4 separate regions of the Homo sapiens genome follow, and regions 2, 3 and 4 are each linked to region 1. Evidence: fine-mapped expression QTL. A gene starts in region 1. Each other region holds a variant in brackets. All regions are shown on one strand. Distances are from middle to middle. Region 1 holds the start of TMEM161B-DT (TMEM161B divergent transcript). Region 2 overlaps TMEM161B-DT (TMEM161B divergent transcript). Region 3 holds the start of LOC124900200 (small nucleolar RNA SNORA70). Region 4 has its middle 47 kb from the start of LINC02060.

Evidence for each region. PIP is the estimated chance that this variant, and not a neighbour inherited with it, causes the effect.
Region 2: its variant is the best candidate, but not a certain one, in a credible set for the expression of TMEM161B-DT in whole blood (INTERVAL, PIP 0.52).
Region 3: its variant is the best candidate, but not a certain one, in a credible set for the expression of TMEM161B-DT in whole blood (INTERVAL, PIP 0.79).
Region 4: its variant is the best candidate, but not a certain one, in a credible set for the expression of TMEM161B-DT in nasal epithelium (TOPMed, PIP 0.65).

What each region holds. Positions count from the first base shown.
Region 1 is chr5:88,264,496-88,272,297 of GRCh38, reverse strand. It overlaps TMEM161B-DT (TMEM161B divergent transcript), which reads right to left and starts at 3,416. Exons shown (of 3, transcript NR_039995.1): 1 at 3,271-3,416; 2 at 1,713-1,772. It overlaps TMEM161B (transmembrane protein 161B), which reads left to right and starts at 3,453. Exons shown (of 12, transcript NM_153354.5): 1 at 3,453-3,577. The coding sequence starts at 3,575. RefSeq lists enhancers at 3,287-3,476, 3,167-3,666.
Region 2 is chr5:88,315,056-88,322,857 of GRCh38, reverse strand. All of the region lies in intron 2 of TMEM161B-DT (TMEM161B divergent transcript), which reads right to left. Among named protein-coding and RNA genes, the nearest start is that of TMEM161B-DT, 50 kb to the right of the region's middle. The variant A/G (reference allele first, on the strand shown) is at 3,910.
Region 3 is chr5:88,379,039-88,386,840 of GRCh38, reverse strand. All of the region lies in intron 2 of TMEM161B-DT (TMEM161B divergent transcript), which reads right to left. LOC124900200 (small nucleolar RNA SNORA70) reads right to left here and starts at 4,069; the gene lies at 3,934-4,069. It also overlaps the pseudogene RPS3AP22. The variant C/T (reference allele first, on the strand shown) is at 4,157.
Region 4 is chr5:88,481,725-88,489,526 of GRCh38, reverse strand. No RefSeq gene overlaps it. Among named protein-coding and RNA genes, the nearest start is that of LINC02060, 47 kb to the right of the region's middle. The variant GA/A (reference allele first, on the strand shown) is at 4,000.

The DNA of each region.
Region 1 (7,802 bases):
TGCCCAGGCTGCAGTGCAGTGGCATGATCTTGGTTTACTGCAACATCTACCTCTTGGACCCAAGTGATCCTCCCACCTCAGTCTCCTGAGTAGCTGGAACTACGGGCACACCCCATCACACTCAGCTAATTTTTAAATTTTTTGTAGAGAAGAGGTCTCACTATATTGCCTAGGCTAGTCTCCAACTCTTGTGCTCTAGTGATCCTCCCACCTCAGCCTCCCATAGTGCTGCAATAACAGGAGTGAGCCACTGTGCCTGGCCTCAAATGCTGTTTTAACTTAGACAATAAACATTTTCCATTAGAAAGACTAGTCTAATGGCTCTTTAGAACAGCTAGATAAAATTCCACTAAGCATATATAACAATTGATCAATCTTATCGTCTGTAAGACTGCAACAAACTTTTTACCATTATAGGTATTACTACAAATAACGTCTTTGTCATAAAGCATTTTAAGGGCAATTTAAATGAAGTAACTGTTTACAACATTCACTTAAATGATATTTGTTATGGGGAAGGCGAGAAAACAAAACAAGGTCCCAGCTGTGGAGGAATTTATAGTCTAATTAGGAAAACAGTATATGTTAGGGGAAAAAAAACTACAATGAAAGCATACGACACTTAACCTTGTTCAGAAACAGTAATTTCTTAGCAGAAAAACTAAGCAGAACATTTTGCAAAAAATATGGACTGAACTGCGAAAAAGTGATATATCTTAATGGTTTAAAGAGTTCCAGGTCAGTGTGGGTATCGTACTTTTTGTTGGTCTTGAAAGCATTTGAGAACAGTTCTCATTCAGGACATTTCAACTCATCACAAAGCCCGAATGGTAAGCAACCAAGACTTTTCTCAAAGATTATGCTCCTAATTCCCTTGCTGAAACTACTGAATTTCTTTTCATCTCCATCTATCTTTTCTTCCCTTTCATAACTGTCCCCTTTCTTTGTATCTTTGTCAAAGACACTCACCTATTTTAAATAATGGAAACAGAGAAATTACTGTACTTCAAGGCAGGCAACCAATAGATAATAATATTATTCTACCAAAAAAAAAAGACTGGGTGGCACTACCTTAAAACATATATCCATTTTAATCATTAAATAGCATTACTTATATAACAGATTTTTCACATGTAATTGAGAGAACTGTGTGAAACAGAACATTAAAAGATATTAATCAAGAGTTATTCATCAACTTGCCATACAACAAATAAGGAACACTGCACTCTGTGATCTATTAAAAATGATAAGCAGATAATCAAAACTGCGATTTCTTTTCATGGTTTTACTCTAGCAGGAATGGATTCCATTCTGATAGTAATTCCAGTTTTACTGTCACATAGAAGGAGATACTTTGCGAACCTCAATGACTGCCAGGTTTAGGACAGATATTAAGAACCACAGTGTCAGAAATGAAAGAGTACAACTTCACAGAATGTGTTGTCTCTGACAGGTTGATAGCCACTTACCTTCTCCATCTTTTCTTCCTCAAGGATAGCAGCTGCTTCCCACAGATACACCAACAGGCAATTCCAGCCCCTCTCTACCACACTTACCATTTGCAGGTGCCTGTGGCTTGTCTATTTACAACCTTGTCCCTACACAGCAGAAGCGGAACCCTTCAGGAAGTTCTGGATTCATCCTCAGCAGGATCTGTTTCACAAACTATTCTCCAGTCCCACCTTCCCTCCAGGTATTCTGTCAGTACTTACGATTCCCAGATCTTCTTTTAATTGTCACGCTGTTCGTCCCCTCACAAAATCAAGTTTAAACTAAAAAAAAAAAACAAAAAAAAAAACCCTCATACACTCAGTCTGTGTCCCCTTTCCTGACATAAAATAACTGGCCCTGTGCATGCTTCTTTTGGATGGCTGAGAACCCCGATTCCTTTGGGCCATTTACAGCTTGGATACCATACGCTCCAGGTACTTTGATAAGCAGGGTGAAATTTAATATCTATAACAACGCCTGCCTACTCAACCTTCTTAACTTCTCCCAAAACTTCCTAGTTTCCCTTCCCAATTCCAACTTCATAACAAAACATCACACTATGGCACAAAGTGAATTCATGGATGAAATTACTAACAGCTACAACTTAAGTAAGGACCCCAAGTCGTGAGACAAATTTCTGGGTTGAAAGTGCTCTGTATATCCATTTCAAGCCTGCCTCCAGTACGATGTCTCATTATAATCAAATAAAAAGGCAGAAAAAGTTGAATGGAATAGAGTTTGGAAAAAACACAAAATTAAAAGTTGTATGAGAGTTTCACTTATTTGCATCTGATATAAATATCTATACATCTATAGAAAAAAAAAACCCTCATACACTCAGTCTGTGTCCCTTTTCCTGACATAAAGCAACTGGCCCTGTGCAAGCTTCTTTGGGATGGCTGAGAACCCCGATATATCGATATATTTATAGATAGACGTCTACATATCTATCCAAATATCTATATCTATCCATATATCTACCTATCTATCTATCTATATATATATCTATATCTATCGATCGATATCTATCTATATCTATCTATCTAGACTTCCCTGGTGAGGGAGTGAACCGCTGCCTGACGGGGGCCAAGACTGGCAGAGCAGAGACGCGGTTTGTACATGAGGGGAGGTGGTGGCCAGAGCAAAAGTGAACCGCAGGCTAGGCAAAGACCACAGCACACAGCCATACAGGTGTCCAGGACCGTCAGATCCCAGAGCATCTATCTATATAGATAGGTATCTATATGGAAAACGTCCATATTGGAACGTATTAAAGAGGCAGAATTTTCTTCCTGGGTTCTCTGCTCTTGGTAGATGTTCTTCCGGCTTCAATTGCCACCTGTGAATAGTGAAGAAACTTCTCACTATGAGATTCCATTGCCCGGAAGGAGGGTAGAGCTACGGTACCCACTAAGGCAGGGAACAGAAGCAACAGACGGACAGGTCTGTGGAAATGAGGATATGCTAATAAGGGACCGAGTCAGGAAAACTAGAGGGTAACAAGAGGGCGTCAGTTAAGCTGAGACAAAATGACGGCCAAAGGTGGTCTTTACTCTCTCTAAATCACCTGGGTCTGGAGTCGACTCCCATCGCGCACCCTCACTCCCACCCCTGGCCCCCTCCCGCCCCCCACCCGCCCCCCTCCCTCTCCCCTCCCGCTCCCCACACCAACGTGTGCCTCCGTCACCTCTCAGACAGTGGATGCGTTCCTGTTGAAACCACCCAATCTACCTCAGGGTCCTCGCAAGCGCAGCCACCACGATCCGCCCGCCCACGTACCTGTGCTGCGCCTGCGCCTCCTCCGCTCTCTCAAGGTCAGCACCGCCCCCAGCCCACAACCTGGCACCCACGGAAGTTGCTTTAGAGGACGTCCTGCGTATCTTCACCTCTGCGTGGCGTGGGGTCGACGGCGCTCTGGAGAAGGGAGGAACTTCCTGTCCCGCGCGCGCACAACTTCCGGCAGAGCCGGAAGACCCTCTCTTTCGCTGTTTGAGAGTCTCTCGGCTCAAGGACCGGGAGGTAAGAGGTTTGGGACTGCCCCGGCAACTCCAGGGTGTCTGGTCCACGACCTATCCTAGGCGCCATGGTGAGTTCTTCTGTGAGGGCAGGAGTGACAACGGTGGGGCGAAAAGGGCGGGGAGGTCAGTACTGTGAAAAGAGCCATCAGGTGCTCTGCTCAGAATGGAGTTGAGACGTTGGGATGAGCTGCTGGGTAGGACCCACCACCTATCTCAGGGTGTCTGAGCCCCTGAGGAAGCAGCATTACGCCTACCTGTCTGGGAGACTAGCGGGCCGGAGGCAGGGGCGTATCTGTCAGGGAGTATGGACTGGGTAGCCTGCCTGTTCATGGCCCATTTACTGTGTATGGCCTGTGGCGCCAGGTGATCCCAGAGTTGACCTTGCCGGGTCAGTCACCTCTTCTGCGCCCCCTTCTCCATCCGCGGAACAGTGGCCAAGAACTTCAGATCTTAGAAATGCTTTTAGCCTCTCCAGGTGGACACAACGGGTCTCCTTGTATAAGATCAACACCTGTCATTTAAAGAAACGGTAGTCCCCTTATTCTTTACACTTAGCCATTTCATAATTGAAAAGGGTGTCAAATAAAAAACCCGAGTTTAGTAAGGACAGACTTTATTCGAAAGGAATATTGCAGGGGTGTGGAGGAAGGTTGAAGGAACTGTTGCAGTAGGGAGAATGACCGTAAGATTTGCATGCACCTTAAAGGTTAGGCAGAAAGGGTTTGTCTTTTGTTGGTAGGGGTAAATAAGATGTCAGGAATTGGGATGAAAATATGGGTATGATCCGGCAGTAACCAGATAATGTTTTACCCTGAGCCCATGTATTCTGAGGAGGAGCTGTTAGGAGAGGTTTGTATATGTTGTTTCAGACTGAGGGAAGGACAAAATTCAGGTACCCGAGAGAAGAGAATCTTAAAGTTTGGTTAATAAGTATTTTGTTCCGATTGATCTGTGGGACAGGTACTTCAGCAAGTCATTTACGAAGCAAAGGATGGGAATTAGAAGGGTCTAGTTATGGCCTTGTTATAGGTAAACAAGGGGTAGGGGGGTATGGATCAACCCTTAGTCTTATCTAAGTTCTACAGGAAAGATGATTCTTTGCAGTAAGCCAATTTCTCAGAACACAAACGGGGGCAAGGGGTTTCTTAACCTTTGCTGTTTTTCAAGATCACGGGGCTCTGGTGAAGTTCATTATTGTCAGTTTCTTCACCGTATACAAGATTTCAAACCCTCACTTGCAGAGGCTTCTGTCCTGGAATTTAGCTTCAGTTTGTCTTATATTTTCAGGGCCAAATATTGCCAACATTCAGTTAATGTGTGTGGTGATTGGCTTTTGAATGACTTTTAGAAACTTAGCTGAATGTAGAACAAAGACCTTCAAAATAATGTAGTTCCTGGTGCACTTTACCAGATAACCTATCTCTTTAAAGTTTTTTTTTTTAAGCCTCAGTGAATAATATGGTTTGTATTAAGAAAGTTGTTTTTCTTTTGTATCAGTGAAATTAGACAAGGATAGGGAAAACAGAACTGGGAGAAACCAAAGCCTAGTAATCACTCTTCCATCCCCATTTTTACAGAAGAAAGAATCTGGGGTCTAGAAATTGACAGTGATTTTTCTAAAGTAACAGTAGTTTGGCAGTCTGGACTAAAACTCATATTTTCATTTTTTAAATTTAAGATTAATTTTTGACTTTTTGGTCTGAAAAGTTGAAGGTAAAGTATAATTAAAATACTTAAGTTCATCATAGTCACAGAAAAGCTGAACATGAACTTGTTCTCAGTGTTTTGGAATACTAGAAGTAGAATCCTGCTTATCCTGTCGGTTCAAAAGAGATGGTTAATGTTTGGAACTAATGTAATCTTATGCTGTTTTTCTGAATGTCATTTTGGAACTAACTAGTTGGCTCTTTTCCTTCTGGAAGTGCTTATATTTCTGAGCTAATTATCTTGGCTGAGTTTTATCTTTCCCAGCTATGAAATTGATAATGTCTGTATATGCAAGTGTGGTTAATGCTTGGAATTTTTCAAAGGGAAGAGTTTAACCATTAAATGAAGTGAACATGGGCTGAATTTATTGAGGATTCAGCTTGTTGAAATCAGAACTTGTTTTGCATTGCTGGGGCCTAATGATATTATGAAAAGAACATTAGTATTGACCCCAGAGGACCCAGATTCTGCCCATTGTTAGTTATATGGATTTGGAAAAGTCACTCAATTTTGATAAGAGTTCCAAATTCCTCCTGGGTAAGAGAAGTGGGACTTGATGGGTATTAAAGCACCTTCTTAAATTTATGATTCCATGACTACTCAACATTTTTGAGGATAGTTACATGTTTCAGATTAAATAAAAGTTAGTCTGATTTCCACTGTTTTGTTTCCATGCCATTTTGGCTTAAGTTTGATTTCTTTTATCATTCTCTTTTTCATTTTTTTCATAAGTCACATAGATAGTACTTGGAATCTTTGTATATTTGGCCAAGTCTTTCACTACTGTCTTAAATACTGCTCCAGAATGGAACACAACTCTTGGAATGTTTTGATTTAATTCTTGTTTTAATCAATGATAAACTAATTCTGTGCTCTCATTCTCTCATACATTATGTATACCGATACTCAATAGATACCTGTGCCTATAACAAGGTTTTTGTATTATGAATGAAGGAGAATAGGATTATGATCCAGACTGAAAATACTGAACTCACGCTTAATTTTTATGCTTTCAAGTTGTTGTGAAGACAAGTCTATAGGAAATTTACTAATGGAATAAAGCCATTTGCTCTATTGCACTTTCCTTTTTGAAAATTACAGACCAACTTTGATCAAATATAAATCTTTCTACCATTCAAGCTAATTTGTGGAAGATAGGTAGATTAGAGCTAGCTCCTGGAATTGCAGATATCACGGCTTGCATCTGTGTATCATCCTGTAGTAACTTACTGCTGTAATTGAACAATGGTTTGTGGGCAGGTGTGGGAGAGTAGGCCATGGGGAGGTTATAAACCTTTGCCATAATCAATTGGATTTGATGAAAAGTTTTCTTTTTGAGGGGAGTGGAGGGGAGTGTTGGGAAGAGTGTGTAAATGCTATAAGAGAAACACATATAATAGGCTCAAAGAGTACAGTGGAAAGAAATTATTTCTAACTGAGAGCAGGTTGGGTCATGTAGTAGGTCACAGGTTCCCAACCCCTGGGACTGTGGACTTGTACTGGTCCATGGCCTGTTAGGAACTGGGCTGCACATCAGGAGGTGAGTGGTGGGCAAGTGAGTATTAATGCCTGAGGTCCACCTCCTGTCAGATCAGTGGTGGCATTATATTCTCATAGGAGCGCAAACCCTGTTGTGAACTGTGCATGTGAGGGACCTGAGTTAGGTGACCCTTAAATGACAATCTAATGCCTGATGATCTGAGGTGGAACAATTTCATCCCGAAACCATCCTTCCTCCACACTGCCTCCACAATGTGTGAAAAAATCGTCTTCCATGAAACCAGTCCCTGGGGCCAAAAAGGTTGGGGACTGCTGTAGTAGGTGACTTCAACTGAGTTTTGAAAAGTGGGTTAATATACTAGTTTTCAAGCTTGAGTTTGCATAGGAATCACCTGTGATACTTGATAAAAAACACTTCTCTGCGCTGATAATTTGGGGTAGCATAAAGTTTTAGAATTGTATTTTTAAATTTTTTTTCAAATTTTACTTTAAGTTCTGGGATACATGTACGGAACATACAGGTTTGTTACATAGGTATACATGTGCCATGGTGGTTTTGCTGGATTTATCAACCCATCATCTATGTTTTAAACTCTGTATGTATTAGGTATTTGTCCTAATGCTCTCCCTCCCCTTGCCCCCCACCCCCTGACAGGCCGCAGTGTGTGATGTTACCCCCTCTGTGTCCATGTGTTCTCATTGTTTAACTCCCACTTATGAGTGAGAACATGGTTTGGTTTTCTGTTCCTGTGTTAGTTTGCTGAGAATGATGACTTCCAGCTTCATCCATGTCCCTGCAAAGGACATGAACTCATTCTTTTTTATGGCTGCATAGTATTCCATGGTGTATATGTGCCACATTTTTGTGATCCAGTCTATCATTGATGTGTATTTGGGTTGGTTCCAAGTCTTTGCTATTGTAAATAGTGCTGCAATAAACATACGTGTGTGTGCATGTATCTTTAGAGTAGAATGATTTATAGTCCTTTGGGTATATACCCAGTAATGGGATTGCTGGGTCAAATGGTATTTCTGGTTCTAGATCCTTGAGGAATCACCACACTGTCTTCCACAATGGTTGAACTA
Region 2 (7,802 bases), 51 kb before region 1:
TGGGTCCGACAGTTTCTTTAGAAAATGTAATTCAATCTACTTCTCCTTGGCTTTGTATTTGCAACTATTTGAAGTTATGTAAATATTTTCATCTGTTTAACATCTTAGCTTTTCTTTCCCATGCTCATGTCCTCATAACGAATACATTGTTATCAAAAGAAATTTATATTAAAAAAGAATGAATTTCCTGCTACTAATTCCTCTGGAGTATATACCTAGAGTTACCCAAGTGGGAAGCAGTCAATTCAAATTAACTGCCACTTGGAGTCCCTGACCCTCAGAAACCACTGCTTGTTTATTCCCTTCCATTGTGTCTTGTTGCTTATGGCACGCCTCTTCTAAGAGTAGTCATACATGTTGTGCTTTAGTTTCAGCTGCCCTGAGGGATTATTTGCATTTTGGAATCTTTAGTTTCAGTCAGACCATAATAAACATAACGTCAAATTTTGTTAAAATTAGTCCTGAACTTTTCACATGATGTGATAATAAAAAATAGAATACACTCTACACAATATGCATTCTACAATGGAGTTAAAGGCACATATAGGCTGGGTGCAGTGGTAATGCCTATAATCCCAGAGCTTTGGGAGGCTGAGGTGGGTTGATCGTTTGAGCTCAGGAGTTCAAGACCAGCCTGGGCAACACGGTGAAACTCCATCTCTACCAAAAATACAAAAAATTAGCTGGGTGTGGTGGTGGGCACCTGTGGTCCCAGCTACTTGTGAAGCTGAGGTGGAAGGATGGCTTGAGCCAGGGTGGCGGAGGTTGCAGTGAGCCAAGAATGTGCCACTGCACTCCAGCCTGGGTGACAGAGCGAGACCCTGTCTCAAAAAAACAAACAAAAACAAAAGGTGCACATACGATAGGAGAAAATAAGGTAGACAAGCCTTTATCAGCAAACTTAAATGCTGTGCTGTTTATCACAAACTGGAAATATTTTACTTATGTTACATTATTTTATTCATTTTACATTATTTATTCCTTGGCACAACCCTATGAGAAAGATATTCTTATTATTCCCATTTTATACACAAGGAAACTGAAACTTAGATTAGTAATTAGATCAAGGCCACACAGATAAGAGAGGCTAAGAATTATACTCAGCTCTAATAGCCTTCAGAGTTGAGGCCTGTAAGCATTGCATATGGTACAACCTTGGAGGTACTGAAGATCAAATTAAGAGAGAAAAAACAAAAATGAGAGAATATGGAACAATTAGTAAATAATTATATCACATTGCATAAAACAGTTACATGGTAATAACTAGACTTTTCAGCTCATAATCCAGACTATTATTTTTAAAAATTATATATACAGGGGGAGTAGGACACATCTAATAACACTTTTAAGAAAAGAAAATCCTTGTAACCTCAAAATGGGGGTTTTCTCTGTAACTGAAGAATTAAAAGTTACCTACAGGCTAATAATAAATTTTAAATGCTATTTATGAGTTTACTCCCCTATATTCATTGACCCTTACTCTCTATCTCCCCCAGGGGATTTTCTTTCTCCTCTTAGCCTCACCTCTTTAGGTACCGCCCATCACTGAGATCTTAGCACTTGATCTCTTTTAATTCTTCAGAGTTCGTTCATTCAGCTCTCATTACTATGCAGAGAAATCCTACGGTAGACCCAATGTGAATGACTTCAAGAGAGATAAGAGTTCCTTCTTTATTAAACAAGATGTTGAGGTTACTACCCTTTCTACGTTTCTTAGTTTTTTCTCTTTTCTTTTATTTTTCATCTTAAACTAACCCTGGATAAACTCGTTGAACTTTGCCATTCTAAAATCCAGAGATTATATAATCTAGAGAAGGTTATCTGGAGAGAATCCAGGTCCAATACAAGAGTCCATACCCTTATGCCTTCAGACAGCATCTGGCAATTGCCCAGTCCACTTTTCTTGATTCCATTCAGTCAGTTCTGGAACTAGACTTTGAATGCCTTTCCTTGACCATTCTTCAAGTTGCCATCTCAGACTACTGCAAGGCCATCAGGCTCTCTGTCACTTATCTTTCCCCTGACTCTACCAGCTTAGTTTCCTCTGTACTCTTGTGTTCTTTGCTTAGTTACATTTTAAGTCAAGGAATCATGCTCTATTTTACTTCTGTTCAGAATCTAACACTATGTTGCAGAGAGTTGCACCTGGATTCTATCTAATGAGACCCTCCAAGGGAACTGCAGTTCTAACTTTAGAGAGAACTACTTGTTTTCAATTTTGATTATCAACTTTATAGCTTTGTATGGATTTAGCCACTGAAGGGGAAAAGAGAGATACTTTGAAGCAATGGTCCTATTTTTACAAAAGACATTATTTTATAATTTTCAGGGTAGGCAAAGTTACTCAAATAAAGTTAAGAACTAAAGAGTATACACCAAGTGTCCTGCTTCTTTTTTACTTTTAGGCAAATATCCCAATTGTTAGTTTTTATTCATTCTGACATCATATCTGGAGAATAAGTTTTTATTTGTGCATACTGAACATGACGTAGTGACATATGATTAAAGCAAGTTTTTATACATAGAACTGCAAAATTTGCAGCAAAAATAAGGCATCAGGCTTTGCTACTTTAAATATATATCCACTTAAAACTACTATTTTAGGAAAGACGATTAAAGTAAGGAACAATCAAAAGTGAAAAGATAGCAGCACCTCCCTTTGAAGTGGAAAAAGTCCCTTGGTCTAACTAGGGAATGCTGACTTGGAAAAATTGGTAGTTTGACACCGTGGAAGAAATAAAATTGTCATGAACAAAGGTGAAGAGGGATTATATTTGTCAAGAAGAGACTCCTTCTGGATGAACTATCTGAGGGCTGTGGCATGTCACATCTTGTCTTGGAAAGTTAATGACTGGTAATGTTGGAGGAATAGGTCTTTTGTCAGATCATTATAGCAGCCTAGTTACAACTGCCTTAAGATGTAATGACTGGTTCAGATAAGGGGCCAAAATACTTCAGGTGAAACATGACTCTATCCAATCACCTTTTCCCTGATTAGCAGAGGGAAGCCAAGGCAGTCTTACCTAGAAGGCACTAAGGGTGAGCCCTAGGGCAAGAACACAGAAGCTGCTTTTGGTCCCCAGAAAATGAGGGCTGAAGAGTTTGCTTGGCTCCTGACACTGTGCACGTAGTCAGCAATGCTTTGCTCAGCCTTGCTCTAGTATGAACAGAGCTGGTTTTGGAATTTACTCTTCTTATTTTAAGCATCCTGGAAGAATGGAAAGCAAAAATTAACCTAGAAAATTGAATGAGGCTGGATGAAAGGTGTTCTTGTATTAAATGAAATATTTTATTGCTCTTTACAAAAAAGGATGAGATCCCATGCAGTTTAGGTACATATCAGGAAGTCAGTAGGAAAACTGTCCCTTTCCAGGCATGCTAGGGATCAAATTTAATGCCTGGGTACAGTGAAAGACATTGGTTTTTCCTCACCTATTACTGCATCCCAGTTTTGATGTGTGTTTAGATCTCATCTAATGTGAAAAATGAGAGGACAAGAAAGGCTCCTATTGAAGAAAAACACCAAGAAGCATTATTAGGATGACAAATACTCTTTTAAACTTCACCTTAACTGTTAATTTTAAAGATAATTTTCTCTTGTTTAAAAAAAAAAATCATGCCAGGTGCAGTGGCTTGTGTCTATAATCCCAGCACTTTGGGAGGCCGAGGATCACTTGAGCCCAGTTGAGACCAGCCTGGGCAACATGGTGAAACCCCATCTCTACTAAAAATACAAAAATTGGCCAGGCATGGTGGTGCATGCCTGTAGTTCTAGCTACTTGGGAGGCTGAGGAGGGAGGATGGCTTGAGCCCAGGAGGTGGAGTTTGCAGTGAGCTGAGGTCATGCCATTGCACTCCAGCTTAGGCAACAAAGTGAGACAGACTCCATCACAGGAAAAAAAAAAAAAA[A/G]GAAAAAAAAAGAAAAACATTAGCCAGGTGTGGTGATGTGTGCCTATAGTCCCAGCTACTCAGGAGGCTGAGGTTGGAGGACGTTTGAACCCAGGAGGTCAAGACTGCAGTGAGCTCAGATCATGCTGCTGCACTCCAGCCTGGGTGACAAAGTGAGACCCCGTCTCAGAAAAACAAACAAACAAACAAACAAAAAGGTACACACTTAACATGCTGCTTATTACTACCCCAAGTGATCTATGGATTTAATATCAAAATGCCAATGATGTTCTTCATAGGATTAGAAGAAATTCTTTTTCTTTTTTTTCTTTCTTCCTTCTTCTCCTTCTATTCCTCCTCCTCCTCCTTCTTCTTCTTTTTGTAGAGACAGGGTCTCACTATGTTGCTCAAGCTGGTATTGAATTCCAGGGCTCAACTGATCCTCCCACGCTGGCCTCCTAAAGTGCTGGGATTGATTACAGGTGTGAGCCGCTAGGCCTGGCTGAACAAATAAGCCTTAAAATTTGTATGGAACCACAAAAGACCCTGAAGAGCCAAAGCAATCCTGAGCAAAAAGAATAAAAATATACTACAAAGCTGTAGTAGCAAAACAGCATGGTACTGGCATAAAAACAGACACATAGACCAATGTAACAGAATAGAGAACCCAGATATTAATCCTCACATTTACAGCCAATTGATTTTTGACAAAGACACCAAGAACATACATTAGGGAAAGGATAGTCTCTATAATAAATGGTGCTGGGGAAACTGGATGTCCATATGCAGAAGAATGAAACTAAACCCCCACCTCTCACTCTATTAAAAAAATCAATTCAAAATGGACCCAAGACCTAAATGTAAGATCCAAAACTATAAACTACTAGAAAAAAAAAAAGGAAACACTTTAGGACGTTGGTGTGGGAAAAGATTTTGTGAATAAGACCTCAAAAACATAGGCCATGAAAGCAAAAATAAACAAATGGGGTTATATCAAACCAAAGAGCTTCTGCACAGCCAAGGAAGCAATCAACAGATTGAAAAGATAACCTACAGAATGAGAGAAAATATTTGCAAACTATTCATCTGACAGGGGATTAATATCCAGGATATACAATGAACTCAAATATCTCAACCGTAGGAAGCAATCTCATTGTAAAATGGGTAGGTGATCTGAACAGACGTTTCTCACTTGATCTCAGGCAAAAGGCCTACAAGCTATGAACAAACATTTTTCAAAAGAAGACATACAAATCTCCAATAAATGTATGAAAAAAACCTCAACATCATTAATCACTAGGGAAATGCAAATCAAAACGACAATGAGGTATTATCTCATCCCAGTAAGGATGGTGATTATCAAAAAGGTGAAAAATAGCAAATGCTGATGAAGATGTGGAGAAAAGGAAACTCTTATACACTGCTTATGGGAATGTAAACTAGTACAGCTACTATGGGAACGGTATGTAGATTCCTAAAAACACTCCAAATAGAACTGCCATTTGATCTAGCATTCCCACTACTGGGCACCTACCCAAAGGAAAGGGAATTGGTATATCAAAGAGACATCTGCACCCTCATGTTTATTGCAACACTATTTGCAATAACCAAAACATAAAATCAACCTAGGTGTCCAACAACAGGTGAATGCATAAAGAAAATATGTTATATAAACACAATAGAATACTATTCTACCATAAAAAAAGAATGAAATACTGTTATTTGCGGCAATATGGATGAACGAAAGGACATTATGTTACATGAAATAAGCCAGTAACAGAAAATTAAATAAACATCGCATGCTCTCATTCATTTGTGGAAGTGTAAAATAGTTGATTTTGGGTTGGTGCAAACCTAATAAAACAGGTTTTGCACCAACCTAATAGAACGGGGGCTGTTAGAGGCTGGGAAAGATGGGAAGGAGGAGATAGGGAGAGATTTATTAAAGGATACAAAATTACAGTTAGATAGGAGGAATAACTTCTAGTGTTCTATACTACTCCTGAACCCAAAATATCTGAGACAGGTCTCAGTCAATTTAGAAAGTTTATTTTGCCATGGTTAAGAATGTAGCCTCAGGAGATCCTGGTGACATGTGCCCAAGGTGGTAAGGTTACAGCATGCTTTTCTTTTTTTTCTTTGAGGTGGAATCTTGCTCTGTCTCCCAGGCTGGAGTGCAGTGGCGCGATCTCAGCTCACTGCAGCCTTCGCTTCCCAGGTTCAAGTGATTCTCCTGCCTCAGCCTCCTGAGTAGCTGGGTTTATAGGTGTGCACAACCACGCCCAGCTAATTTTTGTGTTTTTAGTAGAGACGGGGTTTCACTGTGTTGGCCAGGCTGGTCTCAAATTCCTGACCTCAGGTGATCCACCTGCCTCAGCCTCCTAAAGTGCTGGGATTACAGGGTGTGACCCACTACGCCTGGCCACAGCTTGCTTTTATATATATTTAGGGATACATAATACATTAATTAATACATGTAAGATTTACATTGGTTCAATATGGAAGAGCAGGACAACTGGAGGTAGCAAGGGGTGGGATGGGAGGGCTTCCAGGTCATAGATAGATTTAAACATATTTTTATTGGTTGAAAGAGCGATTATCACTAGAAAGGAATCTCTGGGTTAAGATAAGCTCCTGATTCGATCATGACTGAACTGTGTAACCCTTGCCAACCCCTCATTCAGGGCCCAAATCTTGTCTCTTGAATCTCTAATTCCTCATCACGTGGTAGATTTCCCAGAACCAAGATTCTTCCCCCTGTCCTAATGAAAAATGACCACACTGGAGATTTCCATTGCTGCAATTCACCTATCAACTGATTGAAGTCTCTTGAGGCAAGACATCACCTTGAGTTTGCTAAGCCCTATGATTCAAATGGTGCCACCGTCTTTGAGGCCAGTCCTTACAGCTAAGATTATTTCTGAGATCCTTCTGCCATTTCCGAGCTTTCTTTCTGACAGTTGTTGAGTTTCCTGCATGCCTCGCAAGTGAGCCTGCACAATATTTTGCAGAGGCACAGAATTAGTATTTATTTAGAGCTGTGTTTTGTAGGGGGATTTGGGTAAACTGAATCACTTCTCTGAGTCTCATTTTAAAATCTGTAACATGAGGAAGTTAAAGAGTCTCTGAGCCCTAAAGTTTAACATGTTAAAAATTATCCTAACCAATGATTTAAATATACTGACAAAGATCAAGATGAGCTCATCAATCTGCTTATCTCTTCAGAAAAAAATATTCCTCAGAAAAAATTAAAAACAAAATGAATCTCATAACTTTACTTAAATCAGAATAGGTACTATTGGCAGACTAGAATTTTAAGGAATCTATAAAAGCACAAAAGATAGAAGCCAGACAGGATCAGACTGATACTCGAAAAAGAATTCCTGCAAAGTTGAGAGTAGACTTGGAGTTTTTCATTCACTCATTCATTCATTCATTCACTCATTCATATATGTATTGATTTAGATATTAAGTAAAAAGTGCCTACTAGGTGCCAGGCACTGTTTTTAGCACTAAGGATAACATAGTGAACAAAACAGAGTCCCTACCTTCATGAAGATTTCAATCTTGTAAGGAAAACAGACAAGAAGCAAGCAAATAAACAATAAGTGATACATGCTTGATAATGATGATAAGTACTATGAAGAATAAAATAAAGCAGTGTAAGGAATTAGAGTGTAAAGTGGGGCCAGAGGATGCAATTTTGAATAGGTTTGTCAGCAAAAGCCTCTCTGAGGAGGTGACATTTGAACAAAGACCTGAAAGAAGTATGTGAGCATGCCAAGTGCTCATCTGAGGGAAGAACATTTCAGGCAGAGTGAACAGTAAGTATAAAGACCCTAATCCAGGAGTGTGTTTGGTGAATTGAGGACTGAGAAGGTCCCAGTGGCCAAAGCAGAGTGAACACCAAAGGC
Region 3 (7,802 bases), 110 kb before region 1:
CTGGCAGCCTCAACAGAATCTTTCCAGCTGTGAAGTGAAGTCCAAACCTGGTAATTTTTGCTTTCTTTTATTGTGTGTGCTCAGGTCTGCTTCATTCATTGAAAAAGGTATAGCAGTAGCTAAATGCATATAAAGAAACAAACGGATGTTTCCAAACTATTGACTTAACTCTGTACTCAGACACTATGCTAGGTTTGTTTTAAAATATTCACACACTACAAACATTTGGGTATGTTTGATGATAAATAGCAACTAGGTAAGACATATTTGAAATATCTCCTGAGATCTATAATTTTGCATCAGAGAACTCCAGTCCATTGTCACCAATAGCTTTGTTTAATTTGCTTTCTTTAAAACAATAGTCTGGACTAAACAAGGAACAGTAGGGGCTATGTTGTAGGAAGTATTTTGGGATCCTTATCTAACAGAAAAAATTATATTCTTGAAGTAATGTGGGAACCAAACTTTTAATTTTTATTTTTTCTTCACATTGTAGAGATGAAAGGAAAAAAATGTTTTCATAGTACTGAGTTGGTGTGGACAGTGTGAAGGAAATATGTTTCCTACAGAAATTTTTAGGAGTTTGGGGAATTGGTTCTACTTATCCTACTCTATGTGTATAAACACCAAAGGTGTTTTTTTAGGGGCAATTTCAAAAGAGGGCAGTTAGAGCAAAGAGGAAATCAGTAACTATAGTGAATATATAAGAACATTAAAATCAAGTTTTCCTATTTGTAAATGTGATTAATAAGAAAGCTTAATTTTAAAAAATATGATGTAAATATGATTAATAGGTTTTAAAGAAAATTTCACATGGTTCCAATTTAAGAAAGAATTAGAATAGCCATTTTAATTTCACACAGGAATGGAATTATACGTGGCTTTAAAAAGTTATTGATAAATAGACTGTAAATACTGACAAGCTATTAGTTCATTTGAACTAAAAACAGGAGAGAAACAGAAAAAATAAAATGGGATGGCAGCACAGACAAAATAATATTTACAGGGTGGGCAAGTAAGAGGATGTGGCCATAGAAAAGTATGAAAAGACATGGGCCCTGGAGGCATGCAACTAGTCTTATACCTAGTTGAGGAGAGATTTGAGAGGAGAGATAGTGATGACGCCACTGAAGAGGTTAATTTTTGCCCATGTCCTCCCACTTGCTAGCCACATGTTCTTGTTTCATAGTTGAGACAGGTATTATTATGCCCACTATACAGATAAAGAGACACAAATGCAGAGAAGTTGAGGATCCTCTGACAAAGAGTTACATGCCAGCTCCAGCCCTGTGATTCTTTTTTATTTTTAATTTTTATTTTTTAAGTTAGGATGAGAGCTTAAAAACTGCGAAAGGGAGGGAAAAAAGATGAACCAAAAATATGTGAAATTTTTAAAAAGAGTCACTGAGGAATTCTGAGCTGTCAGGTATATTCAGAAAAATAAAGCAGGGAAAAAGTGAGATGATAGGGTTTTTAAAAATTCCTGTTCAAGTTCGTAACAGGCACAGTGCCTCTTTTTATTCATCTCCTGCCTGTACATATTTTCCCACACACCATTCTGTAGTGATAGAATTCATTCCCTTGCCCACTGGGTCAGTATTTTATTACTTTACCGGTTTCTTTTTGTAATAGCTTTTTATACTCCTTGCCAGTGAAAGTATACTCCCAGAAGAAGAAGATGACCAAAGGAAGGAGAACGTGGGCAGGAAAGGCCTGGCAAGCAAGGTCACTGTTAGAGCCACGTCTTGATTGTTCCATTTCCCCAGTGGGCACTATTACACATTTCCCCTTAAGCATGAGGCCATGTTATTTTCTGTGTCTAGCTTTTACCTAGAACATGGATGAGCTCATCAGAAAATATAACAAAATTAAATTCTATCATTGCTCATTGCAACCACGTAGCTGATATTTTATGTATTGCATCTTAAATCTCCTTCTGGAAGTGTAACAATTATAGCCTGTATAATTTGTACCATTGTTGACATTTTTATCTTCTTGAAAAACAATTTAGTACAACTTTAATTGAAGATCTTAAGCCTCACAGGTTAGTGGGCTTGGAGCAGGATGCGGAAATAATGGGAGAAAACCACTCATCAAAGTAGTTAAATGACTTGAACTCGATCACACAATTGGCTGAGTCTGGATTGAGAACCTGGAGTTTTATTTTAGGCTCTGGATCTTACCACATTGCCTTTCAAATTCATTTCAGCTGGACGCGGTGTCTCATGCCTGTAATCTCAGCACTTTTGGAGGCCAAGCTGTGAGGATTACCTGAGGTCAGGAGTTCTAGACCAGCCTGGCCAACATGGTGAAACCCCGTCTCTACTTACAATACAAAAATTAGCTGAGCATGGTGGTAGGTGCCTGTAATCCCATCTACTCAGGAGACTGAGGCAGGAGAATCACCTGAACCTGGGAGGCGGAGGTTGCAGTGAGCCAAGATCACACCACTGCACTCCAGCCTGGGCAAAAGAGTGAGACTCTGTCACAAAAAAAAAAAAAAAAAAAAATTATTTCAGCCAGTGTTTATTGATCACTTGCCATGTGTTAAATGCTATAGAGAATTGCATTAGAATTCTCCACTTGTGAGCTTATTCTTTTATTAGGGTATGTCCAAACAGGTCTAGAAGAAAAATTTTAAAACATCTTTTGCAGGAAGAGAAATTTCTAAGTCAAAACATTCATTCCCCCAAAAAGCAAAACCCTAACATATATTTAAAATTATGCAACAACATAGATGAGGGAAATCTTTAGCTATAAGTAGTGAAAACAATCAACACTACAAAACTATTGGCCTTATTTGTATGTCTGCCAAAATAAGTAAAAACATAGGCAGTGAAAGAAAAACTTGACTACTAAGATACCTTCCTTACTCAAAGCTACCATCTCCAAATATTCTCCGAGTCAACCAACAAATATCAAGTATTCATTTCCTGTCAGGCACTGGATTAGAGATCTGAGAAGGAACAAAACAGATGTAATTCCTACCATATTGAATGAAATAATTTGAATATCTTTTCTACTTTCAAAATATAAGCTAATATACTTTCTGGCCATTCATATTTTAGTAAGAATTACTTTAAATGAATAATCAATTTTCTTGGCTCTCTGTTATGGGAGGATATTAGTTAGTGACAGCTCAGTTTTATTGTTCATGGTGAGGTTGCAGGGCAGAAAACAGAGAAAGAACAATAAAAAAGCGAAAGGTCATTTTAGAACATGAAGAATGTGGGGAGGGTGTCCCAGAATGCAATGCCAACAAATATCGAGTACTCATTTACTGTCCGGAACTAGATTAGAGACCTGAGAATTCCATGGAATGATGCCACCATGAAAAGCTCATGGTTACCTTAGGGGTTTGGGTGTCTAGAGAAAGGTAGGAGAAGAGTGACCAAGGAAACATTGCTTTCTTATTGCATAAGGATCTTGGTGTCAAATTCATTGACTCAGGAATCTGTGAAGTTAGAAACCTTATTAAAGAATTTGGATTTTTTTTCCCCACAAATAGAACTCTTTTTTTTATGGATAGGATTTATTGGTTGGCATTAGGAGATGGCCACACAGTGGAAGACTTCATGAGTACAGAGCTTGTCATTTGTCCAGAGAGTCACAATTGGGGATGTATTTGACTCCACAGTCATCTGGGATGAGCTACTTCTCAGCCACCATGTCTCCAACTTCATTCAAATTGAACTTGATAAAGCACCACTTCTTTGAGATGTGGATCTTCTGGCAGCCAGGAACTTGAACTTGGCACTGTGTAGGGCCTCAATCACATGCTCCTTGTTCTGCTTGGTGCAGATGGACCTGATGACTTGGCCAATATGAACCCAGGCTATGATACTCTGAAACTTTCCAAAGGCAGCTTGCACACCTCTCTACAGCCTACACTGGGACAGCATAAGGTCAGAGACATGAACATACACTGGAAAGGGCTGCCTTCAAGGTCCCTTAGAGGCAACCCATACAAGAAGCAGGCTGCATACACTACCAAGGAATCTGCTGTTTGCAGCCATTGCACACCAAGCCCCCAGGAGGAAAAGAGCTCGGTCAACTCAATTGGCTGCAGACAGATAGGCTTTTTTATTTGCCACTATTAAAATCAAACTTTAAACAGATTCTTGGACTTGTGGCTCATATCCATCAGCTCATTCAA[C/T]GTTAGCACCTGTCTTGTCCCCAGTAGCTTTTCCAGAACAACTAACTTCATCATGAAACTCTATTAGTTTTCCCAATTCAAACTTGGGTTTCTTCAGCATTTTTACTTTTCTAATGAATACATCATGAAGAGGATAAATAGATTGGCAAGCATTTTCTATGTCTTTTCCAATGTTGTCTGGAATCAATTTATTGAACACTTTTTTGAAGTCGTTTGTCTGCACTTCTGTGTTTATGATTTCCATCATCTCCTTCTGAATTTGACAGACCTGTTGGTGCTGAGCATAAGAGGTCTTCTGTATCTGATTGTTGCATTTTCTATAAAATCAATACAGAACTGACCAAGCAAATAACCATCGGTAGTCTTGACATTGACATGAGCTTCAGTCATGGTCTACCATTTTTTGACCATGGAACACATTTTGTCATGGGTAAGATCCATGCCATGGAAGTTAGTCAGGCAGTTTTTGCCCTGAACATCTTCAGTAATCAGCTAGTTTATTCTAAATGCAACTTCATTATTCTGCAGATCAGCAAGACCCACTTCAAACACATGACCCTTAAGGTCATCAGGTGCAATTCTTGTTCCTTGAATCCTAGTGTCTTTCCAATACTCCTTATACTGACCATAGCAGGTGCTTTCACGTGATACCAGTCTTTCTTAGAAAATGGATCAACCCCTTTCTTCTTGGCTTCCTTTTAGCCACCTTTCATAAAACGCTTATTCTTGCCAGCCACCATGGTGCTGTTCAGAGACCCAAAAGGCAAGAATTTGGATTTTATCAACCTTGAATAAGGTCTGCAAAATATCACTTCTTAGTAATCTTTCATGAGTGATCATTCTAGCCCCAGAAAGATAGAAAGACTGTTATATGTTCCTATATGTACTGGCTCATGATATGGTCTGACATAGGACAGTCTTTCTGTCTGTTCTATATCAGACCATATCATGAGCCAGATAGCTGATATTTTAGGTAGGTTTAGAACAGTTTTTTTAAAAAACATTTTCTACCAAAGCATCCCTAACTGGTAGTACAGGAGAAAGTTTTGAGTGGCAAAACTCCAACAACAGAATTATACCAGTGATGGTAGGGAACAAGAGAACTGTTGAGGGTAAGTCAAGGCAGGAAGTTTGAAATGCCTTTAAAATCTTGTGGTTGTTTTCCTTAAAAATTTAAGCAATTATTATATACTACCCCATAACAGGTTCATGTTTTTTATTGTTTTCATTTTTGTTTTCAGACAGGGTCTCGCTCTGTCGCCCAGGCTGGAGTGCAGTGGTGCCATTAGGAATCACTGCAGCCTCAACCTCCCAGCTCAAGCATCCTCCCACCTCAGCCTCCCAAGTAGCTGGGACTACAGGCACTCACCACCATGCCAGGTTAATTTTTTTTTGTATTTATTGTACAGACAAGGTTTCTCCATGTTGTCCAGGCTGGTCTTGAACTCCTGGCCTTGAGTGATCCATAAACCTCAGCCTCCCCAGGTGCTAGGATTACAGACATGAGCCACTGCACCTGACCTCATGTTTGTCTTACATTTAAGCAATGCCCTTTAAAATACTTGCTAGTATTCAAATTGACTTTCTGGGAAGAGATGCCATGATAATTGTGTGGTCTCAGTCCACCCACACACTTCGGCACATGCACGAGGATGTTTTACAGGGTTTTGTTGGGGAATATACTGAATACACATGTTCAGTTGTCTGAGCAGTCACAGTGCCATGGTTTAGTTGAATTCAGAGTACCTTGAATTGGTTTGTAAGAGTGTGATTGGTCTGTCTCAGATTCCCATTCATTACTGGGACCCCCAAGTTTCCAAGGATTTTTCTATGATCTACATCTGCCTGCCAATGATATGGGCTTGGATGGCCAGGACAAGTAGAAAATATGAGACCCAGCATTCCAGGTCAAAATGATTCTGGGTGAAGCATCCCTGCCAGCCATCCCCCATATGGGCTGTTGTTGGGGTGATCAGACCCAACACCAGGTCGTGGGGGTGAAGAAGTCCAGCAGAATCAAAGGATTGAGAAAAACACAGTTTGAGAGAGAAAGTGGGACCAGGGGGCCATCACAAGTGTGAAGGCTGCAAAGGCCCCAAGCTCTGGGAGCCCACGCTATTTACTGGTGCTCAAACAAACAGGTGGTCAGGACGTGGGGGTTGAAAGGAAACAGTGTATCAAGTGAATGAGAAACATATGGCTGCTTGAGATAACAGGAGTGCTAGAAGCAAGGAACCAGCAAGTCTAGCAGACATGCAAGCCCTGCCTCAGCTTCTCTCCCAACAGTCATCTTTTCTCCCAACAAGCTGTTAATAGAATTTTGCCTTTTAAACATCCCCCTCTACTACCAGACTTGGCCCCAGAGAAGTCCGACTGAGTGTAAGGCACAGAGAGCACAGAGAAGCTGATGCAACTTTGCTATTATCTAGGTTCCTTCATCCCATCAGTATTTATTGAGTGTGTGGCAGGCATCATTTGAGAATGGGGATAAAACAGTGAAGACAGAAAAGGTTACAGTGGTAGGCAGAATCCTGACTCCTGAAGATGTCTGTGCACTATTCTCTCAGAACCTGAGAATAGTTACCTTAAATGGCCAGAGTCTTTAGCTGGCCACAGTGGCACACACTTGTAGTCCCAGTTGAGGTGAAAGGATCACTTGAGTTCAGGAGTTTGAGACAAACCTGGACAACATAGAAAGACCCCTGTCTTTAAAAATAAAAGTAGGCTGGGCGCGGTGGCTCACACCTGTAATCCCAGTATTTTCGGAGGTTGAGGTTGGCGGATCACTCGAGGCCAGGAGTTTGAAACCAGCATGACCAATATGGCAAAACCCCGTCTCTAATAAAAATACTAAAATTAGCCGTGCATGGTGGGGCATGCCTGTAATTCTAGCTACTTGTGAGGCTGAGTCACAAGAATTGCTTGAACCCAGGACAGGGAGCTTGCAGTGAGCCTAGATTGCGCCACTGCACTCCAGCCTGAGCAAAAGAGTGAGACTCTGTCTCAAAAAATAAAATAAAATAAAATAAAATAAAATAAAATAAAATAAAATAAAATAAAATAAAATAAAGGCTTTGCAGATGTGAGGGTATGGACTTTGAGATGGGAAAATTATCGTGGATTAGGTGGGCCTAATCTAATCGTATGAGTCCTTAAAATCTGAACCTTTTTCATGCTGGGAGAAAGACGAGATAAAAGAAAGATAGATTCAAAATGTGAGGCCAGGCTTGGTGGCTCACACCTGTAATCCCAGCACTTTGGGAGGCCAAGGCGTGTGGATCACCCGAGCTCAGGAGTTCATGACCAGCCTGGTCAACATGGTGGAACCCCATCTCTACTAAAAATGCAAAAAGAAGCTGGGTGTGGTGGCGCATGCCTGTAATCCCAGGTACTTGGGAGGCTGAGGCTAGAAGATTGCTTGAACCCAGGAGGTGGAGGTTGCAGTGAGCTGAGATCACGCCACTGCACTCCAGCCTGGGTGACAGAGTGAGACTCTGTCTACATTTAAAAAAAAAAAAAAGGAAAAAGAAAAAAAAATGTGAGGGATTCAATCCACTGTTGCTGGCTTTGAAGTGGAAGGAGCGGCAATAAGACAAGGAACACAGCCTTGACAACATCTTGATTTTGTCCCAGTGAGACCTGTGTC
Region 4 (7,802 bases), 220 kb before region 1:
TGAGAACAATTGAAAAATGTTGTCCTAAATAATTATTTTTAATGACAATATTTGTAAAATGTCTTCAATCTAAAGATGATTTATAAAGTGTATGTATCTACATTCTGTGTCCTCATCAAGCGTTCTCACTCGCTGTTTGCTCTGGCTCACTATTCATTAGCTGAGTTTCAACAATGAAGAAAGAAGGATTGATTAGTCTGTCACTGTACTTTGGGGCAGCCAGCCCCCCAAAACATTGCTAAACTTAGTTTACAATTAAATCTACAGGATGCTTTTGCAAAAGTACATACTTTATCATTTGAGATTTCTCACATGTGAAAACATGTGAGATCCAGAGCGCAAGACCACTCTAATGATTTAAGTCTTTTATTTTCACTTTAACTTGAAAACCTTTGCAGGAATTTTTGCTAGCCGCATAAAGTTTACAACTTTGCAACACAATTCTACAGACTGTTTTCCCCTCAATCTATAATAATTACTGTTATTTTCTAGCTATTGTAAATTGAGCACAGCATCATTCATTCAGGAAAGCTCTCCTGGCTTGCGTCATTTTAGCCACATTGTTCTCTGTGGCAGGTAAGACTAATCCTGTAGCATTTTAACTTCAAACTTAAAAGAAGAAAGCAGCACAGCCAAGACACAACTGAGTATAGTTCATCTAACTAAAGAGGCCCTGTTGCCTTTACTATAATGCAGTCACGATGCTCTGCCTTATGTTCCTAGGCTTTTCTTCTATTTGAGACAACTTCTACTTTCACACATTAACACCCTATGCCAAAATCCAGCCTGTGACTGCCTCGTCTGAGAGAATTGTGGGCAAAGTTCTAATTATTGCTTAGTTAGGTGCCTGCTCCATTTGACATACATGAGTCACTTTTGTTCTTTTCTTTTTTGTTGTCACAAGGCTCCTATTCCTTTAGATTTCTTTTTTATTTGTAAAGGGGGAAGTCTCTCCAGGCTTTTCCCACAGTGTCCTCCATCCAATAGGTTACAAAGGTACTAACATGCTAAATAGAAATGGTACCCTTGGGAAAAAATCCATTTCTTCTGAGGTTGTCCCTGTTCCGGTGAATGAAGACTTCTTTGAGGTTACAAATATGTTTAGCAACATCTCCATACAACTGATTACAGGTTGCTTCATTCAGACTCCAAGGAGAAAGCCCTCCTATCCTGGATAGGCATGAGGTGATGAATACACTCTTGGAACAAGGAAGCTTTATTTAAAAGACTCTTTGTGCTCTTCTGAGTACCCTAATGAGCTATCCAGGGTGGTGCATCATTGTGGGAGCAATCAGACAAGTCCTGTATCCTCTTTTCATTAATCCTGCTCTCTTTTGTAGCCGTGCTTGTTGTTGACTCACAGTACCCATCATTCCTTTGACTAAATAGTAGAAAAAACATGACTTTCATGTTATGGCCCACATCACCAAAACCATCAGTTTTTATATATGGCGAAGAGCAGCACAGGAACCCGATCTCTTGCCTCTATGCCTACGAGAGGTCTGGATTTTGCTTCTTCAAACATGGTTGCAGAAAATACCAACCTGAAAGCTTGAGGGGAATGCATGTTTGCTAAGTTCACTGTGTTTAATAAACCTCAAACCACTTGGAATCTAAATTGATTCCATTTAGATGCAGGCAGTCAGGCTGCATCTACACAAATGAAGTGAATATGTAGGAGCTTTATCCAGATAACTTGGGGCCCCTGTATATTTGGTGCTTTCAAGATTCAAATAATGCTTCAATTCTTTGTTTCATGTAACATGTAGACTCAGTCTTAATGGTAATGTTTTCTTATCTTAATATTCAGAGACTAAAATTCACACTGCATTTCATTTGTTTGAGACATAATTTATAATTAAACATTCACAATTTCATCATATTTTAGTAATATAGAGCCTGTGGAGAAATAGAATTCAAAATTAAATCGATTTCTAGATAAAGGTGAAATAAGTTCCTTGCTTAAAATATGCGATACTTTAGGTCTAAGGTAAGGTTTTTCCATATGATTTATTTTGATCATTGCCTTGAGTCTCCATTTTCCTTTGTATGTTTAATAATAGCCTAAACTATATATTGACACCATACTCAGAAACACTGTGACCTCTGCGAAAACCCAAGACAACATGAGTATGTAAAATTTATTTTTGTGGTCATTTACACCAAAATATCATGAAACACCTCATGGTTGATTTGATTATAAGAAAAAGAAGTGAGCGTGTCACACTATCCCATTCAGCTGGTAGCCGCAGACAGATGTAGGCAATTCAAAGCAGAGAGTGCATCCTCAGTTCTTGAACATAATTTTACTGGTGGAATTGAGAAACTCAGTGACTGTGTGGCACTTAACCATCCCTTCAAATCTTGCTCACACTGTCTATGGAATACTTTTCCCTTTAAATAACAGGCCGAAAACTTTTGGCACAGAGTATAAATGAATTAGAAAAGTTGTGTATAAGTAACTCAAAAACTCAAAACACTAATAATTCTCATACTTCTTGAAAAAGAAAACTACAATTCTTACCTGAAAATTAGTCAGTCAATGTACATTTCAGGATGTTTCATAATATACACCTAAAACCTGTACCTTTTGAGGCAAGAAGACAAAAGCCTTGTTTCTAATCCTTGTTTCCTCCAGCCCATTCGCAGCCCCTCGGCATTCTGGCACTCTATTGTATTTATTTTTAATTGAAACCTCAGTTATAATTAAACATTTGTGAGTGAAGGTAGAATGCCACTGCTTTAACCCAGATAAGTGTGCCTGGAGTTCATGGGCATGAGTGTATGACGAAAGATCAAATATCATGTGCAGCTGACATGTTCTGAACAGGTCCTGTATATCCATGTATAACTGTCTGTCCACAGTATAAAATTTGAGTTAGTGATTTAAACCTCTGTACTTAGAAAGTTCCCAGAGCAAATGAAAATGGTGTTCGAGGGTAAAGTGATAGAAGCAATATCAAAATAGTCAGTGAAAATAAACTCCCTGTGTGTATTCCTACGATTGTGCCCAAGGTGCTAATTACACTAAGGACAGGAATTAAAAGGGGAAAGACAAAGACCCAGAGCTCTGAGTGAGGCCTAATTGTATTTACACAGATAAAGAGACTAGATGGGGGAAGAAAAGAAACAACGGGCAAAAGTTCTCCATTTAGTCTTTATAATTAGTTAAGAAACATTTAAATTAATAACACATTCTGAGTAATGCAGCATGTGTGGCATATAGCACATTTTAAATTAATTCTTGAAATAGCTACTGGTGTCCTACTTTATTTCAATTTTGATAAATTAGCTTACAGTCACTTTTTGATGGGTGTCCCATAAAGTAAAAATTAGTATTTCATCTGCCATTAACTACTCTTCCTGTAGAAAAAAAAATAACATATATAAAAGGCAGAATTTAAAATAGATATTTGAAGTTGATCCTATTAATTTGTATTTTTAACAATGGCGTTAGAGAGGAAGAAAGGGTAATAAGTTTTATGAGCTTATTTGTGTAGCCTTATAGTAGAAAAATCTCTTGATTGTCCATGTTTAATATAAAACTGGTCACTTGCATTTACTATTCCTCATTGATATGATACAATAATCTTCTCTGGTATTTTGGAGCTCAGAGAAAAGGCCTCAGATTATAAGACTGCTTCAAAATAGCTAGCTTTTGTCCTAGAATTATGTAAAAATTTACAATCTGCTGATTACACTATTAGGGAGCTGCAGCCTCATTGACCTAATGTCATAGTTACCTTTGGAATCCTTAATGTCTTAAGGCATGATCCAGGGTAGTGCTTCTAAAAATTCTCTAGTTTGATTTTGTCTGCATCTGAGTATATGGAAGTGCATGTGTGTATTTGTACTTAATTTTGGGCAATTGGAAAAAAACTTTTCTATGTGATCCTTCAGCCTAGCAACGAATCAAGCTACTTTTCTTCATGTTTACTTAATTATTTTGTATGCTCCCCATCCAAGCAAGCAATTCAAGTATATGTAACAATCAGAGGG[GA/A]CCAAACATAAACCAAAAAATGGTCATATGTAAAGCTCAGACAAAAGATTTAGGCACAATAAGGTGAATGTAAGAAGTAGCTAGAAGAATCATTAGCTTAATTTCTAGGTATTCTAATTTTTGTCCCTAAAAGTATTGCAACTCAAGAACAGATAAGTGCATCTTGTTAAATTGAGGAGAAATAAATCAGAAATGTTTCTTTTGATTTATAACTGTCATCAGTGCATGCATGTTCATGGGTACATTATTTTAAAAATATTTCTTTAAGGACTGGTTAATTCTCTCTCATACTTCAGTCCCCTCCCCCACCCTCATCTTTGCATTAATTTGTCTACCCTAGCAATAAGTGTATGCTTTAATCATATATATTTAACCTACTCAGGGTTTCTAAAAGGACATATTTATGTCTTAGAAAACCAAAGTGATTTCACTTTGTTCTGACAGAACAACGTACATTTCATTCAAGTGTCTTTTTTTAGGTGATACTCTTAGCAAGGGATTTTATTTACTGAATGACATTTCTGCTAACCTGGAAGGGAAGATATCCATTCTTCAAATACTGTCATTACCAAGCTTTAAAAAGACTTGATTGTACCATGTTAGGGAAACAGTGTCAGATTTTCCATCAAACTTTCTCCCACTGTAATAACTGAGCATAAAAATGAACTTCGAGTGATGAAATGACTACAAAGCAAATTAATGCAATCAAGTCATTAGTAACAACTCTGTCCATATCTGTTAAATATTTTCAAACTATTCTAAAAAAACACACCCAGAAGGCAAACTAACAGTGAATAGAAACAAAATGGTCAGCAGCGTGTGTCGCATGTTATTTGAATGGAAAGTAATTTATCGCGTCTGAAATAAAAGCTGTTTATTCTTGTGTTTCACTGTCTGTAACAATCTTTACCATTTATCTGTGAAAAAGTGAGAAACTGTACCGTTATTAGCATATGAATACTTGACACATCAAATTGGCTGTACAATAACAGAAGGACATTTGCTATTGGTGTATGCACACAGACAAAGCAGCCATTTTGAAAAAAATTGAAATGGTGTGGGTGGTTTAACCCTTTACTTATCTTGTAGGTTTCCCACTCCTGATTTTGACCGGAACAGTTTGGCAGTTAGAATCAGAATATTTTTATAGCAAATAAAAGTAATCACGGGCCATTATGTTCATGATAATTACGTTGATACATTCACTCTACTAGAAAAATAGAAGCGGAATGACAATAAAAGAGTTTGTGTGAGTGTGTGTATGTGTGTGTACATGCATGTGCAGGGTGGGGGAAGGGAGTGGAGGCCGGCAGTGTGTGGAGGGTGCAGCAATGAAACAATGCCTACGTACAGTTTTATTTCATGGCAACAACATACTGGTCCTTGGGTCAGATGTGTGAAACTATTTCTCAAAGAAACCGCATACATAATTGAGGCCCTCCGAAGGGTTCCCAGTTGAAGTTGCCAGGCTACATTCATTTCAAAAGCAGAGCCATTTGTTATCATATTTAAATTAACTCTCTGCACACTGAACTTGAATTTTAGAGTCCTGCTTACTTATAATTCTTAAAATAGTTGAGAAAGGGGAAAACATGTGTCTGGAAAATGGAAATAAGGTAGTCCCCACAAGGGACAGCAGTGGTTCTCATGCAGGCCTGAGGTGAAACAGCCTTTTATAGCTTAAATTTAGAAAGATCTGTTTGGAAACACTAGAAACAAGTCTTTATTTTCTCATGCAATTTTTTGTATAGATCCAGATGCAAGATTGTTGCAAAATCTTGTCATTTGTAATCTGTGTGTCAGCTAGGTTTTTACCCTTATCAATGTACTAACCTCATTCCCTTTCCTGCTCCCCCAGATTATTCTTTGCCGTGAGATTTAGAATAAGATAATTTCTAAAGTTGCACAAAATTTAAACTATTTTAGTTTAATATGTCAGTTCAATCTTGGCTATAATAAAATACACTTTTTTTTCCCTAATCTGTGAAACTTTACGCATTATTTTAAACAAAGTTTATGCAACTCACTAGATAAATGTTTTGATAATTTTGCCAATTGCTGATACATTCATTCAAACAAACAACTCAGTGGAAATCAAAACATGTAAACTGACTTGTGTTGGGACCTTGCTATAACTGCACAGAGGAAAAACTTTCCAAATGAAAATACTGTGCATGTTTTTTTTTACAAGATGCACAGAGACATGATTGCACATTATTTTGTCTGTTAAAAGTGTTTAAAGTTTAAGCTATCTCCATTGTTAGAATGTTCTCCATTACCTGAGTTGGTAAAATTAATCATGGGACAGACTTTCATTCTTGCTAAGTTTGATACATAGAACTAAATAGCCCATTCTGAATAATCCATGTATTTTTTCTTCTCTTTTGAAATACAAGTTTAAAGGTTTTAATCACTATTCCCTCCTCATTATAGGACACTAATTTGTTATGATTAAGAAAACCTGTGTTCATCATTGTAAGGAAAATTTAGCTTTTTAGACTGCAATGCATAGTAAAATTTCATTTGAAGGCAATAAAAAAGAAACAAAAAATAAAACAAAACAAAGCAAAAAAGTACAATGAATATAAAATACCATTAAAAGCTGTAATGTTAAAAGTAATCTTCCAAATACCTACCGAGTCTCTCATATAACATAAAGAACATCTTATTGTTCTCTTTTTAAGTAATTAGTACTTGTGAAGTCCTACTATAGCCATAGAAAGCAGAAACTGGTCATCTTAATGACATCTATTAATAATATAACAATTGATAGGCAACATGAAAGTTGAAAATAAGTTACACAATTTTAAATTCCTTTAAAATTGTTGAACGAACACATACAAAAAGTGTCTATTAGTCTTTCTTTTCTTCTAATAAAATGTGGTGTTTTAAAACCACAATCCATTTGCTTATTTAAAGTTCTGTGTGGCCAACAATACTACACGGTTAGTATGTCCTCTCAAGTGCTCTTTGAGAATCTTGTTTACTTATTGGAGGAAGTGATGTACAACACTGCAACATGCAGAGCAGTACTAGATCTTTCTTCTTCTTTTTGTTTTTGCAACTGTAATATGAGATTAAAAGTAAGAAGCTAAATCTTATTAAACAGCAGAAGCTTTTCAAAGATAAAACATAAACTTTATGGGAACATATAAAAGTTGCTTGTGGTGATACATTTCTGCTATTTCAAAGCTTTATCCAGGTTCATACTGACTATACATAGTTATAAATGTTAGAAAAATTAGGATAGATAAAACTTTGTAAATTCTTAGATTGGTTCATAATACAAATAATGTAATTTGGCTGGGTCAAAATTGAATCATTAATAATATCAGTTTCACAGCTAATACTTATATCAAACACTGGTCCTCTTTGAAAGCTTCAAGTTATCTTTCTTATGTAAAGTTCTCTTAAAGAAAACTGTTATATGCTCCAGGGGATTATTAACATATTTGTCAATTAACATTTAAAAGCCATTTATGGCCAACAGTTTGTCCCTATTGCTATTTTGTATTTTAAATTAGAATATTTTAATTAATGTACAGGACAGAAACTTTTAAAAAATAAAATGTAAAATTTCCTTTTTTGTTTGCTAAAGAGGTAAGTTTTTCTTATTCTGCAGAATTATTTTAAAATGTGTAATTATTTCAAAGAACCTAAGTATTGTGTAAATAACCATTTTCCCCCTCATTGGTCACTAAAATTACTCACTGAGTCTGACAAGATTCTATTTAAAGTTCCATTTTGGAATATTTCAAAATATGCTAAGCTTTTCTAAATCCAAAATTAAAATTTGAACTCA